Homo sapiens: one gene and its partner. The protein of the gene in region 2 interacts with the protein of the main gene of each other region in a biochemical or structural test. Each region holds a gene or a part of one and is shown on either strand. Other genes may lie near its edges.

Evidence for each region. The genes of interacting proteins can lie anywhere in the genome.
Region 1: the proteins of TOX4 (region 2) and TRIM65 form a complex in vitro, tested with the Homo sapiens proteins (one study listed by BioGRID).

The regions. Positions count from the first base shown.
Region 1 is NC_000017.11:75,893,935-75,901,682, forward strand, and holds the start of TRIM65 (E3 ubiquitin-protein ligase TRIM65), read right to left. Parts: upstream 3,018-7,748; 5' UTR 3,004-3,017; coding exon 2,590-3,003; intron 1-2,589. Other genes in the region: MRPL38 (large ribosomal subunit protein mL38 precursor), read right to left, coding at 4,916-5,052, 5,224-5,360, 5,582-5,740, 7,048-7,093, 7,267-7,339. UniProt on the Homo sapiens protein: E3 ubiquitin ligase that plays a role in several processes including innate immnity, autophagy or inflammation.
Region 2 is NC_000014.9:21,487,188-21,494,204, reverse strand, and holds part of TOX4 (TOX high mobility group box family member 4), read right to left. Parts: intron 6,755-7,017; coding exon 6,512-6,754; intron 5,616-6,511; coding exon 5,355-5,615; intron 5,033-5,354; coding exon 4,802-5,032; intron 1,910-4,801; coding exon 1,829-1,909; intron 1,698-1,828; coding exon 948-1,697; intron 1-947. UniProt on the Homo sapiens protein: Transcription factor that modulates cell fate reprogramming from the somatic state to the pluripotent and neuronal fate. In liver, controls the expression of hormone-regulated gluconeogenic genes such as G6PC1 and PCK1.

The DNA of each region.
Region 1 (7,748 bases), on a different chromosome or scaffold from region 2:
ACCCGCCCATGAGCAGTACATCTCGTCTCATCCTCCTCGGCGGCTTCAGCAGCTACAAGGAATGTCCCGCAACACTCTGGAGCCCTTTTCCTTCACCTCATCTCAGCCGCTCCTGTGAACTCACCCTGGCCCTGTCACCAGCTCTAAAATCTCCATTCTAGGCATCGATTCTTCCTTCTCTGACCACTGCCTTCGTGCCCTCTCCTGTTCCAGCCACCTCTGTCTCAGTCCTCCCACCTCACCGACCCCCAGCCGTGCACTCTCCCATCCCTCCCTGCCCATCAGGCCTCCTGGCCACCCCTTCCCTTCCTGTCCCATCCAGCGTCCCTGCGCCATCCTCCATCCACGCCTTAGCCCCAGGCCTCCTCTGTCCCCGAATGATTCCACATCCTGTCTTCGCTGCTGAAATGGGTTTTGTCAAGGGCACGGACCACCTCCACAGTACCGATGCTGAAGGTCATTTCTGTCCTCGTACTGAGCCTCTGATCAGCATGGGCATCCTGCCCGTTCTCTTCCTGGCACCCCTGTCTCCAGGTGCCACACAGGGCTGCCATTCCCCCGACCTTCCCCATCTCCCTGGGAGCTCCAGCTTGGAACCTTCTCTTCCTCCTAGCGCTAATGATTCCCAGCTCTCGACTTCCAGCTCCCCGCTCCTGAGCTTTGGAGCTCACAGCAAGCTCCGCCTCCCGGGTTCACGCCATTCTCCAGCCTCAGCCACCAGAGGAGCTGGGACTACAGGCGCCCGCCACCAGGCCTGGCTAATTTTTTGTATTTTTAGTAGAGACAGGGTTTCACCATGTTAGCCAGGATGGTCTCAATCTCCTGACCTCGTGATCCACCGGCCTCCGCCTCCCAAAGTGCTGGGATTACAGGCGTGAGCCACTGCACCCGGTGGTGGCCAGGCTGCGGGGGGTCCGGCCCCCTCCTGCTCCTGGCGGCAGCACCCACTTGAGGAGGTGACCCTCACTCATGGTGCACAAGCTGCAAACACAACAGCCCTTGGTCTGGCAGAAGAGCTCCAGCAGCTGCCCGGGGCGGGGTCAGCGCGCGGCAGGGCTGGGGCCAGGGTCCCAGGTGCCACAGGCCCGTCCCCTGGTTTGTCCCACTGGCCACTGTGACCTCTATATGTCCAAGGCCAAACTCTGCCCTCCACCTACGCCTCTCAGGACATAGCACCCCAGCCACCTGCGTGCTCAAGACAGAAACCCAGGTGTCTCCCTTGCCGCCCTCTCTGCTGTCCCCCGTGTCCCCTCTGGCCTGCTTTCGCCTCCACAAGGTACCACTTCCCCTCAGCGTTTCTCATCTCCTCCTCCATCTTGGTCTCCCTTCCCTGATCCCCAGCTGGTTCTTTGCCTCCCTGCACTCCTACCCGATTCGGGTCTTACATCCTGCCCCCTTCAGCCCCCAGCCAGGTGATCAGTCTCCATGAAGCCCAAATCTGATCATGTGCCAACCTGCTTCCAAGCCTATAATGGCCCCCATGACCCTACAGTAAGAGCCAGACTCCCCCAGGACCCTGCCCGATCCTGCCCCTGCTGACCCCCAGGGCCTGGCCCACAGATCTCAGTGGCACAAATCTGCCACTAGGGACCCCGCGTGCCCAGTTCTTTCCCATCCCAGAGACGGGACCAGGCTGATTCCTCTGCCTAGAATGCTCTTCCCCAGGTCTTTCTCCTGGCTTGCGCTTCCTCAATCCTCACATGCCAGCCTGAAGGCGGCCTCCCCTTCCTCCTCCTGGCCCGTTTAGCAGGGTCACCCCAACCCCTCTATCACATGCCATGTGCTTTCCTCACTGCATTTTGTAATAATACATTCACGCCTTACTGGAACACTGACTTCTTAAGTGGATTCTAAGTCTCTTAAGGGCAGGGAGCTCGTCTGATCCATTTACCAACAGCCCCCATAGCCCCCTCGCCCTCCACAACCCCGCACAGCGAATGAAAGGAGGCTCTCGGAGCGCAGGAGACACACGACGGTTCTCTAGCGCTTGGGCACGGAGCAGGGAGCTGCTGCCTCACGCCCAGGCTTTGTTCATCCAGAGGGCACCGAGCAGCTTCTGAGACCCACCCTGTGTCACTGGCCGGGCTGCATATCCCAGTCTGATGCACAGACCCACGATTTTTTGTTTGTTTATTTTCTGAGACGGAGTCTCGCTCTGTCGCCCAGACTGGAGTGCAGTGGCACGATCTCGGCTTACTGCAAGCTCCACTTCCCGGGTTCACGCCATTCTCCTGCCTCAGCCTCCCGAGTAGATGGGACTACAGGCGCCCGCCACCACGCCCGGCTAACTTTTTGTATTTTTAGTAGAGACCGGGTTTCACCGTGTTAGCCAGGATGGTCTCGATCTCCTGACCTCGTGATCCGCCCGCCTCGGCCTCCCAAAGTGCTGGGATTACAGTCGTGAGCCACTGCGCCTGGCAGACCCACGACTTTTATAATCAGCTCCCAGGTTGGGAGAAGCCCCTTACAGATGAGGCTCCCCGCCCCCGCCGGGTGCCCGAGAGAGCAGGGCGCGGCCCGCAGGAGTCACCCGGCGGTGGCCAGGCTGCGGCGGGTCCGGACCCCTCCCGCTCCCGGCGGATGCGTCACCTCGCGCTTGAGGCGCTCGGCATCCAGCAGCGCCCGCTCGTGGAGGCGACACTCGCGCACGGTGCACACGCTGCACACACAGCGGCCCTCGGTCCGGCAGAAGAGCTCCAGCGGCCGCCCGTGGCGGGGGCAGCGCGCGGCAGGGTCGGGGCCGGGGCCGGGATCGGGGCCGGGATCCCGGGCGGGCCCGGCGCGCACCACCTCCAGCACGCCGCTGAGGGCCACGTTGCGGCGCAGCTCGGCGCCGTCGGGAAAGGGCTCCCGGCACTCGGGGCACGCCTTTCCGCAGCGGTCCCACCAGTCCCGGATGCAGGCCCCGCAGAAGTTGTGGCCGCAGGGCAGCGTCACTGGGTCCTGGTAGAGCCCCAGGCAGATGGCGCAGGTCAGCTTCTCCTCCAGCAGCTGCGCGGCCATGGCCCGGCGGCGGCGAGAGCCAGGCGGGCCCCGGGCGTCTTAAAGGGACCGCGGGCCTCGCGCGCTGAGGGCGCCTGGGCGTGGCTAACGCGGGGCGGGGCGAGATCCGGGCGGGGCGGGGCGAGATCCGCGCCCGGGAAGGCGGAGGGGGGCGGCAGGCCCTTCTCTGACACCCTCGACGAGCGACCGCCGCAGGGGCCTAGGCCACCCCTGCCCACCTCGGCCTGGCCCGCTCGAAGGTTCCGCGTTCCCGCCTTGCGCCCCTCCCTCCGTTAGGGTCCACGCCACCCCGGCTGAGAGCTGAGTTCGGCTCTCTAGGGTCCCAGCCTGGCGGGTCCATCCCACCCCCCTGGGCCTTCAGCCCAGGTCCTGGAGACCAGAGGCTCGAAAACCCCGCCAGGACTCCGGGCTTCTGACCACGGGCCGCGCGGAACCTCTTCTGGACTCATCTGCCAGTCGCCTAACAGCATAGACCCCCACCCCCAACAATCCCCCGGGGCTTGGCGATGAAACGGGCTGGCGGGCTCCCTGCAGACCCGAGCACTGCTGCACTTTTTCCTGGAGCTGGGTTTCGGACACTTGCCAGACTGGGGTGTCTCCCTTCTCTGGGCTACACGTAATTTTGGTTCTTTTAAAGTAAACAGCGAGATGGAAATGTCTGGTCACCAAGAGACAGGGACCAGTTAACTGGTATTTTTCAAATGGCCCTGAATGAATACACAAACCAGCTTTCATCTGCAATCAGCATCCCCTCTTCCTGCTGCCCTCCGCTGGGGAGAGTTCCTTGCCTGGGGTCCAAGCTGATCTGCAGCCTCAGTATTTACAGGCACTCCAGCATTTCCCCTGAAGCTGAGCAGGCAAGGCGGGTCTGGGGCCTAGCGCCCACCTACCTGACAGTGTGTATCAGGCCAGGGGGAACCCCAGGAGAGTACGGCCTTTCTAACCAAGCTGGGCTGATGTTGAGGCGGCACGAGCTCTCACTGCTGCAGCAAGCACTGCGTCCTCTGTGCGGCCATAGACGAAGTTTCTTTCTGGACAAAGTGCACGGATCTACCCTCCACCTACTAGTTAGCCAGACTTCTGCTTTTGGTAAGGGAGAAACAAAACACCTAACCATCCAGCCGCAAGACTCCATGGGTTTTCTGACCCTGAGCAGGTCTCTTGAGACACGCTGTTGCCTACCTAATGTGGCTTCTCCTCCCAAGCATGGGGTGGGGGCTGGAGCCTGTGCAGAGGGTCAGTGCTCGGGCAGGCACTCTCTCTCCAGGGGCCGGTGGGACCCCCCTGAGGCACAGAGCCAGTGCTCAATAAATGCTCCTTCCTGAGCCCAGCTGCTCTGCTCCACTTTTTCGGGGAGCTGGGTTTCAGGAACCTGCTGGATTGGGATGTCTCCCTTCCCTGGGCCACACCTGTTTTTGGCCCACTGCCTGCTTTTGCTTCGGATCCCAGGGCCCCTGACACCCTCAGAAGACGGAGGTGAGGACGCACTTAGTGGGGTGGGAGGCAGCCCGTTTCCCACCCATGAAGCTCCATCGGGGTCCTCTGGCCCTGGAGCACCGACCCAGGCCAGCTATGGCAGAAATCCCTTTTTTTAAAAAATACAGGCAGGGTCTCATTATATTGCCAGCTGGTCTTGAACTCCTGGGCTCAAGCGACCCTCCCTTCTCAGCCTCCCAGTGTTGGAATTACAGGTGTGAGCCACCAAGCCCGGCAAGAAATCATGTTTATTCACATTCCCCACCCCACCACCTGAGAGTCACTTTCACTCCAAGCCCTGGGCCTGACGGGAGGGGGCCAAAGAGGGGGGCTGCCTAAGGCAGGGCCCAGACCCCACAGTGTGGGCCTCTGGAGCTGTGTCTTTACTCTTGCTGCCGATCAATCCCATGCTCTGAAATGCGCACACTCTGGCTCCTTAGTAGATGCCATAGGTGGGCTCATGACTGTCCCTGTACCGGTCCAGGTAGCGCAGGGGCTGCCGGTGGGGGAAGCGCTTCTGCTTGGGGTGGTAAGGGGGCGGCCGCACGAACTCAAACACCGGCTCCCGCATGTCTGCAAGAAGAGTGAGGGGTACGGGGTGGTCTGCTGGCCTGCGCCCCCTCAGGCTGAGGCCTGCCCACCAGGGACCTGCCGCAGCCTTCCCCTAACAAAGCTTCTCCCTGGCAGGGCAGGCGAGGCCTGGGAGCTCAGGCCCACCCAGTGCCCCAGCCCCATGGCCCTTACCCAGAAGCTGGTGGAAGATGTAGGTGACGGAGTCATCCCAGCGGCACTGGAAGAAGGACAAGCCGGCTGGAGTCATGGTTTCTTGGTGTTTCTTGTAGAAATCAAAAGTGCGGAAGGTCCGCTGGGCCAGCTGATAGCTATGAGAAGATAGAGAGCGTATGAGAGTGTGGAGTGGGGCACCAGAGCCCCTCACCCCGCCACCCCAACAGGTAACCCTGAGAGGCCCCTGGGAGTCTGCTAGCACCCTATCCTGCTCTTCTGCCAGTCTCAAGGCTGAGGTCAAGAGAGAACTGAGCAAGAGTGACCGTTCCAGGGGAGCTGGCCTGAGGCCGGGTTATGTGTGGGTGGTGTAGATTACCAGGGTGAGGGGCGTGCGTCCTCAGAGAAGTCAATCGGCTGGTCCTGCTTGAAGAGCAGGAAGGCAAGACGGTGGATGCCGGAGCCTCGGGCAGGGAAGGGGGGGAGGTAGGGACACGTCACCTGTCCTTCAGCCACCCGGTTACCCGGGATGTTGGTTCTGGGAGGAGGAAAGTCCCGGTTAATTACCACTCCAGGGAGGCAGCAGGAGTGTCCCCTCAGCTCCATGCACACCCTAGAGGCTGACATGACTCCCTGGGAGGACAGCTCTAAGCATCTCTCTCCTGGGACAGAGGAGGCAGCCAAGCTCTGTGAACGCCGGGACATGCTGCAAATACGGGAAGCGGGCTGGAGGAGCTCCGAGTGGGGGACAGGGCTCCAGAGAGCATCAGCTTGACAGCAAGGCCATGCAGCCGCTTCCAGGCCCCGGGAGCCGGTGGGTCCGCCACAGTCACTGAGGCTAGAAAGCCAGGCCACTTTTGGCTGCTTTTCCCTCTGCGTCCTGAAGTCTCCAGGACCTCGTCAGGGAGTGTGTGCCCAGCCTGGCACAGGGGCGGCCAACGCCTCAGGCACAAATCCCCAGAGGGTCCTGCCGCATAGGCTGGTAACAGTTGAATAAAAATGACGGAAACCAGCCTCCCAGTCACTGTCCCCAGTTAACCAGAAGGCTCAAAGTTGGGGTCACTGGCCTGACCTCTGCCCCCTGGCCTGGTGTTCAGAGCCAAAAGCTACCAAGATGGAAGGCCGCCCAGTCTGGGCCCAGGGAAGGAGCGCCCAGTGGTTCAAGGAGCACCTGGGGGACGCCACAGCTGCTAGGCCTCTCCCGCTCCTTCTCCCACGTGACTGTCACAGTCCACCTCACGCTGAGTAAGGCATGTGGTGCCATTATCCCAGTTTTACAGGTGAAGAAATGAGTTTAGAGACGAAGGGCCCAGGCATGGTGGCTCACGCTTATAATCCTAGCACTTTGGGAGGCGGAGGCGGGCAGATCGCTTGAGCTCAGGAGACCAGCCTGGGCAACATGGTGAAACCCTGTCTCTATAAAAAAATACAAAAATTAGCTGGGTGTAGTGGTTTGCACCTGTAGTCCCAGCTACTCAGGAGACTGAGGTGGGAAGAGCACCTGAGCCCAGGAGTTAGCGGCTGCAATTAGCCATGATTGCACCACTGTACTCCAGCCTGGGGGACAGAGTGAGACCCTGTCTCAAAAAAAAAAAAAAAAAAGAAAAGAAAAGATGAGGAGGCTTGTGGGGACTGACCGAGGCCTACTGCAAACTTTGTCTCCTGTAGCTGTCTTCAAGTAGACACGTGGATCCCAGGGCCCCTAACACCCTCAGGAGGCAGAGGTGGCAGGTGAATTCAAGGTCCCATGGGTAGTCCATGAAACTCAGGAGCAGCTCAGTCCAGGCTCCCAGCTCCTCTTCCCGCCTGGGCAGCACCCCCTACCCCCAGTACTCCAGTACTCACAGCAGCCAGTGGAGGTACTCAGCATCTGGCTCCAGCAGGTGCCCATCTGCACAAAAACACACCTGCTGACCACGGCCCAGCCGACCACGGCCCTGCCACCCCCTCCCTTGTTAGGAGCCAGCGCTGGAGATCTCCACCTGGCCCCTCCCCCAGCCCCCCAGGGCCCTGGCTCATAGGAGGTGAGCGGGGCAGGAGGCCTGGTGAGCCCCAGACACCCACCCAAGCTAGTGAGTAGCAACGTCCACAAGGAGCCCTCTTCTGCCTCATAGGTCACCTCTGGCGCTTGGGCAGCCTGGCAGGGTGAGAAGGAAGCTGTCAGCCCCACCAGGGACAGGCCAGCTGTTGCAGGGAGCCTTGGAGAAAGGGGTGCCCACTCTGACCCAAAAGCCCTTGACAACCCCTGGCACAGGCAGGCAGGCAAAGGGATGCGTAGAGAAGCAGCCCTGCAGAGTTGCCTGTCCAGGCAACAACCACAAAAACGAACATGTGCCAAGGCCGGGCCAGGAGGGCACACCACAGACAGCAGGCTGGTCACAGGAATGTGCTAAGACAGAGCCTCTTTTTCCTTCATTTTGTTCTATTTTCTTTGAAATTGTCATGGTGTCGTCTTCCAGGAAATCAAAGAGACAGAGAACAACAAAATTCCAAACCCAGGAGTGTCTGTGACACTGAGATGGGATGTGTCTGTGTTTGCACAGGGC
Region 2 (7,017 bases):
AAAGCTTTGCATGTCCAAAGTTTAGGATCCTTGGGTAACAACTCTGAATAATAACTGTTTAGGCTATATCCTGTCCAGTTGAACTAGTGACCTCTGCTTAGTTAAGGAGTGGTCTGGGGCAGAAGACTGTCTTAATGTATCTCACTAAAAACACTATGGGGCACACGGTGGCTCACGCCTGTAATCCCTGCACTCTGGGAGGCCGAAGCGGGCGAATCACGAGGTCAGGAGTTCAAGACCAGCCCAATGAACATGGTGAAACTCTGTCTCTAATAAAAATACAAAAAATTAGCTGGGTGTAGTGGTGGGCGCCTGTAATCCCAGCTACTCGGGAGGCTGAGGCAGGAGAATCACTTGAACTAGGAGGTGGAGATTGCAGTGAGCCAAGATTACACCACTGCACTCCAGCCCAGGCAACAGAGCGAGACTCCGTCTCAAGAAAAACAAAACAAAACAAAACAAAACAGGGCGGGTGCAGTGGCTCACACCTGTAATCCCAGCACTTTGGGAGGCCGAGGCAGGCAGATCACCTGAGATCAGGAGTTCGAGACCAGCCTGACCAACATGGAGAAACCGTCTCTACTAAAAATACAAAATTAGCCGGACATGGTGGCACATGCCTGTAATCCCAGCCACTCGGGAGGCTGAGGCAGGAGAATCTCTTGAACCCAGGAGGTAGAGGTTGCAGTGAGCCGAGATCGCACCATTGCACTCCAGCCTGGGCAATGAGTGAAACTCCATCTCAAAAACAAACAAACAAAAAAAAAACAGTATGAGTACCTTGGGTAAGAGAAGTCAACTGCTGCAAGGAACTCCCATCTGCAGGATGTTTTGTGCTCCTGGTTGCTGGGCATTAAATGCTAGTAGCAACCCCCACTGTTATTGGGTCAACCAAAAACATTTTTATACATTTCCACTAGACTAAAGACTTAAAAACAAAGGCTCACCTCAGGAACTACATCTGTGATCATCTCACAGATAGTCTCAGGAGAAGGTGCCTCCACTGTATGGGCCTCAGGGCTGTTGTTCATAGGCCGCTCAGGACTACTTTCCACAGTTGGTGGGACTAAGGTAGTCTGCATTTTCAAAGTGGGTAGAGGCACACTCTTGATCTGCAGAGGAGGAGGCTGTTGCTGTAAATTGATTCGAACTTTCTGAGGTGGAGGCTGTTGCATGGCCTGGAGTGGAGGAGGCTGCTGCAGAATGGTAACTTGCTGCTGAGTCGGGGGCTGTGGCATCTGTTGTAATGGAGGGGGCTGTAGTCGGGGTGGAGGCAGTTGCATAGAAGCAGCAGCAGCAGCAGCTGCTGCTGCCTGCAACACTGACCGAGTGACAATCTGGGCTTGTTGACTGGGCTGGATAGTAGCTGTACTGGTTTGGCCTAGTTGGAGCCCCCGGGAGGTCACCACTGTGGCTGGGATAACAGTAACCATCCCTCCTTGAGACATAGTAATAGAAGAGGGCAACATTTGTTTGGTAATAATCAACTTGGTGATATTGGGCTGACCCCCAGCTCCAGAAGATGCCTGGTTTGCCACATAGGATGAAAGGGTGGAGTTAACAACAATGGATGGGGACAGGGCAGGGGGCTCTATTGAAGCTGGTGCTGGAGATGCTGGGTCAACAGTAGCCATAGGAGGTGGAGAAGGAGTTTGTGATGGTGGTGCTGGATCCAATTCCACTGTTTCCACAGTGGCCTAAAAGAAGACATAAATCAATCTATCAATTAATCAATCACTTGGTGGTATTTACTTCTTAAAACTGCTAACAAACACTTCCAAAAAACTTCTTACTGGTTTAAATATTCATTCTATCCTATCCCTCTTACCTGACACTCCTGGTTGTCTTTGTAAGCAGCCAGTGCCTTCAGATACTCTTTCTTGGCAGCCTCAGTTTTCCTCTTATATACCTGCAAAAAAGAGACTTTAAAAAAAAAAACAAAACTCCCCATACTCTTAGGAAAGACTGATAGTTCTGTATTATTTATCAATGAATGACAATTCATCTTAGTCTAATCACTGACAACCTCTATCAGTGAATTCAATTCTGAAAGCTAACAGTCAAGACAACCTCCATGGCAGACTCACTCCACTGAGCATACCTCTGAAAGACAACCAATCGACAGGAGTCTGGCAAGAATAGCTACATTTATTTTATTTTGCTACATTTATTTTATTTTTTTTAAATTTTTTTTGAGACAGAGTCGTGCTCTCTCGCCCAGGCTCGAGTGCAGTGGCGTGATCTTGGCTCATTGCAAGCTCTGCCTCCCAGGTTCATGCCATTCTCCTGCTTCAGCCTCCTGAGTAGCTGGGACTATAGGCACCCGCCACCACGCCCGGCTAATTTTTTGTATTTTTAGTAGAGATGGGGTTTCGCTGTGTTAGCCAGGATGGTCTCGATCTCCTGACCTTGTGATCCGCCTGCCTCTGCCTCCCAAAGTGCTGGGATTACAGGCGTGAGCCACCACGCCTGGCCGAGAATAGCTACATTTAAGGCAAACATCAACCCATGCTCACTTCTGTAACAAAAATAAACCCTAATCTGCCAGGTGCGGTGGCTCACGCCTGTAATCCCAGCACTTTGGGAGGCCAAGGTGGCCAGATCACGAGGTCAGGAGATTGAGACCATCCTGGCTAACCTGGTGAAACCCGATCTCTACTAAAAAAAACAAAAACAAAACTAGCCCGGCGTGGTGATGGGCGCCTATAGTCCAGCTACTCAGGAGGCTGAGGCAGGAGAATGGCGTGAACCTGGGAGATAGAGCTTGCAGTCAACCAAGATTGTGCTACTGCACTCCAGCCTGGGCGACACAGTGAGACTCTGTCTCAAAAAAATAAATAAATAAATACAAAATAAACCCTAATCCAAAAACTGTGTCTTAGCCTGGGACTGTGTCTAACCAGTATATTTTCCCTTATGGAATGTGGTAAATTGTTTGCAAAGATGGCCACAACAACTCCTCCCATATGACCTTTCTCCCTTCAAGAGCTGAAGCCTATTTCCCCCTCCTTTGAATCTGGGCTAGCTCTAAAAAGTTTTTAAACTCTAAATCCAAAAAAGAAAAAGAAAGAAAAAAAATAGGCCAGGTGCGGTGGCTCACACCTGTAATCCCAGCACGTTGGGAGGACAAGGCAGGCGGATCACCTGAGGTCAGGAGTTTGGCACCAGCCTGACCAACACGGTGAAACCCTGTCTCTACTAAAAATACAACATTAGCTGGGTGTGGCGGCACATGCCGGTAATCCCAGCTACTTGGGAGGCTGAGGCAGGAGAATCACTTGAACCCAGGAGGTGGAAGTTGCAGTAAGCTGAGATTGCACCACTGCACTGCAGCCTGGGTAACAGGAGCGAAATTCCATCTCAAAAACAAACAAACAAGTAATTCTAAATCCAAACTTGGTAGTGGATTTGAGAGTTAGCCACAGCATGCAGCTTATCAAGTAATAGCCTAATTTTATAAATGGGGGAAAAAATGAGACTTAGAAAAGTTAAATATCTAAAAATTGAACAGAAGGACACTACATGAGGAATTATAGGAGACATTATTAGTGGAAAGTACATGGGAAGAGTTAAAGAACCTGGATTGTGTCTCAACTTTACCACTTAAATGTTATATGACCTTAACTGGGCAGTGGGCTCCAGTTTCCACCTTAAAAGCGGGAAATGGTAGCTATTTTTGAGAGTTATTGTAAAGATGCAGTACTTCTGTAACAATTATTATTATTTTTTGAGATGGAGTTTCACTCTTGTTGCCCAGGCTGGAGTGCAATGGCATGATCTCGGCTCACCGCAACCTCTGCCTCCCGGGTTCAAGCAATTCTCCTGCCTCAGCCGCCTGAGTAGCTGGGATTTGAGGCATGCCACCACACCCGGCTAATTTTTTTGTATTTTTAGTAGAGTCGGGGTTTCAATGTCAGCCAGGATGGTGTTGATCTCCTGACTTCGTAATCCGCCTGCCTCGGCTTCCCAAAGTGCTGGGATTAACAGGCGTGAGCCACCGCGCCCGGCCTATAACAATTATTATTTATTTATTTGAGCCGGGGTCTTGCTCTGTCACCCAGGCTGGAGTGCAGTGACACAAACATGGCTCACTGCAGCCTTTATATCCTGAACTCAAGCAATCCTCCCGCCTCAGCCTCCACAGCTGGGACCAAAGGCACATGCCACCACACCCAGCTAATTTTCTGTGAGACGGGGGTCTCCCTATGTTGCCCAGGATGGTCTCGAACTCATGGGCTCAAGCAATCCTCCTGCCCTGGCCTCCCAAAGTGCTGGGATTAAAAGCATGAGCCACCACACTCAGCCTATTAATAATTTTTAAATAGGCCGGGCGCAGTGGCTCATGCCTGTAATCCCAGCACTTTGGGAGGCCGAGGCGGGTGGATCACGAGGTCAGGAGATCGAGACCATCCTGGCTGACATGGTGAAACGCCGTCTCTACTAAAAATACAAAAACAAAATTAGCCCAGTGTGGTGGAAGCGCCTGCAGTCCCAGCTACTCGGGAGGCTGAAGCAGGAGAATGGCGTGAACCCAGGAGGCGGAGCTTGCAGTGAGCTGAGATCACGGCACTGCACTCCAGCCTGGGTGACAGAGCGAGACTCTGTCTCAAAAAAAAAAAATTTAAATAGGTTTTCTGGAGTGAGTGTATGGCTGCAACTTCGAAGACAAGGGATGATATTTAAGTGTCATTAACAAACAGCTGATATTAGATAAGGACATGTAAGAAAAAAGAAAACCTCAATTTTTATCTCTTTAAAAACTTCTGGAACATTCACTACTAGTTCCTCAATATTTGCTCACCTGTTTTTGCTCCTCTCCAAGACTATCCCACATGGAGGCCACAATTTTTGAAACCTCACCAAAAGTGGCATTAGGATTCTGTCCCTTGATGGCAGCCTGTGTATCACGAAAGAATAAAGCATATGCTGAAACTGGTTTCTGAGGTTCATTAGGATCTTTCTTTTTTCTCTTCTTTGGGGCCTTCTGCTTTTTCCCTGCTTCCACCACGACTGTCTTCTGGCTGGGAAGTTGCTGTAGGAGAGAAAAAAGAGAGAATTACACAATGGACAATGACAAGTATTATGTCTGGAAACTAGCCACATGTATGGAATTTTCAGAAATGCTAAAAATCATAGAAATAGCATTAAAAGACATTAGTCAAATATGGAGAACCAATAAGAATAGGGATTGAGAGGAGAATTATAAACTGGAAATTGGGAGGTGGAACCCCATACCCAGAAAACAGCAGAGGAGATGGCACGGCAAGGGTAAAGAATACTGATTAGGCTCTGTATCCCAAAAATTTTATCCCAGACTATCACAGCAGAATTGATTTTGACAGGGAATGCCTCACCCTCCGGAAATCCTCAACACCATCCTCGTGAAGTGAACTAGTAGGTGAAGGGGTGGTTGAAAGACGATCTTCAGGTGACTGGGCAGGTGGCAGGATGGTGCCACCCCCTAGGCTCAAACCCAGCTGGGAACTCAGTTCTGACTGATCAATGGTGGTCAACTGGCTATGCCCCATCAAGCCAGATGTCATGTCTGTCATTGGTACATCAATTGTAACAGGTGGGTTGGCACTATACTGAGTTCCTATAGAGTGGTCCAAGTCCTGAGAGAAGCAGAAGGACTAATTAAACACTAAATATAAAAAAAACCACTTTTCCCCCCTAAATTTAAGACAGCTTATAAATTCCCTGCCTACCCAAATTGTATCATTTAAAATACAAAACATAAAATAGTCTTCAAAAATGAAAATAAAAAAATAAGCTTTTTAAAAAAGTACAGAAATTAATGAATTTACTTCTTTGCACTCAAAAGAAGAACTAAAAATAATCAGAGAAGTCGCACTGTTGGACAAGTCAAAGAGCTATCAACTTATTCAGTAATATATAGGTAGTGACAACACATTGAGTAAAGAAAAACTTCCTATCTGTACTCTCCCAAAATAATAGCTTTTAAAATTGTAATACATAGGCAATCAGCATAAATAAGGCCAATATTAAAGTCTGGCATCAAATATAGAGTATGAAGATGTGCTTACTGGTTCGATGTGCTGGAAGCCCAATATACTGATTTATATTACATACTAATCCACAATACTATATTTGGCTCAGACTTTTTTTTTTTTTTTAAGCTCTGTTCTGCTGGCTGCTCAACGTGATTCAGGCCATTTTTGAATAAATCCCTCCGTGTGCCAGCTATCACATTCAAATTTGAATCCTAGGATGTGAAGGCCATAATAAAAGCAGAAAACACTTTTTCCCAAAAACCACAATAAATAATTTTCAAACCAGACATTGTACAATTTTAAATTATTTTTCAAGTAAAATCTACCTACATGGTAAATTTCATTTATTCAGGTGAAATTAAGTCTTTGTTGGTGAGCCTTTAGCCACAAGAAGAGAAACAAGTAATACCCAAGTGTAGCAGGGAATAGAGTAACTTTGTCTCCCCTAATGCCATGCCCATTAGCTGGGGTAAGCCTGACAATGTCTTGCCCCTTACCATGGTCAAGCCCCCACTCAGGAGCCCCCCGCCCTGCTCCATCAAGCCATGGGTCATGCCCACAGGCATGTCCAATGTCTGGACCCCATACTGGGCTGAAAAACTGCCATCCTGTGAAGAGGAAGGGTCTGCCAGGTCATCAAAGTGGCCAACCACATCTGAGACAGCCAATGAGGGATCAGAATCCAAGGAGATAGGTGGGATTTCAAATTCCTCATCACCCAAGCTTGGTGTATGGAATGTCTGTAGGGGAAAAAAGGGGGAAAAGAATTAGTGAAAAGAGGAGAAATGGCATACTACTAAGTGAAGAACATAATGGGGTACTAGAGATTCTCAGGATGCATTTTTTCTGCTTAGGATCCTATTTTATAATCAATTTCTTAGAACCTATTATTTTTACCAATCTCTCTTCTGATACCCTTGGTCATTTGGTACATTCAAGGCTGCTAACATCAGTCACAATTTTCAATTCTTTTATCTCTTTTCTACCATTACCGTCTCTTTTG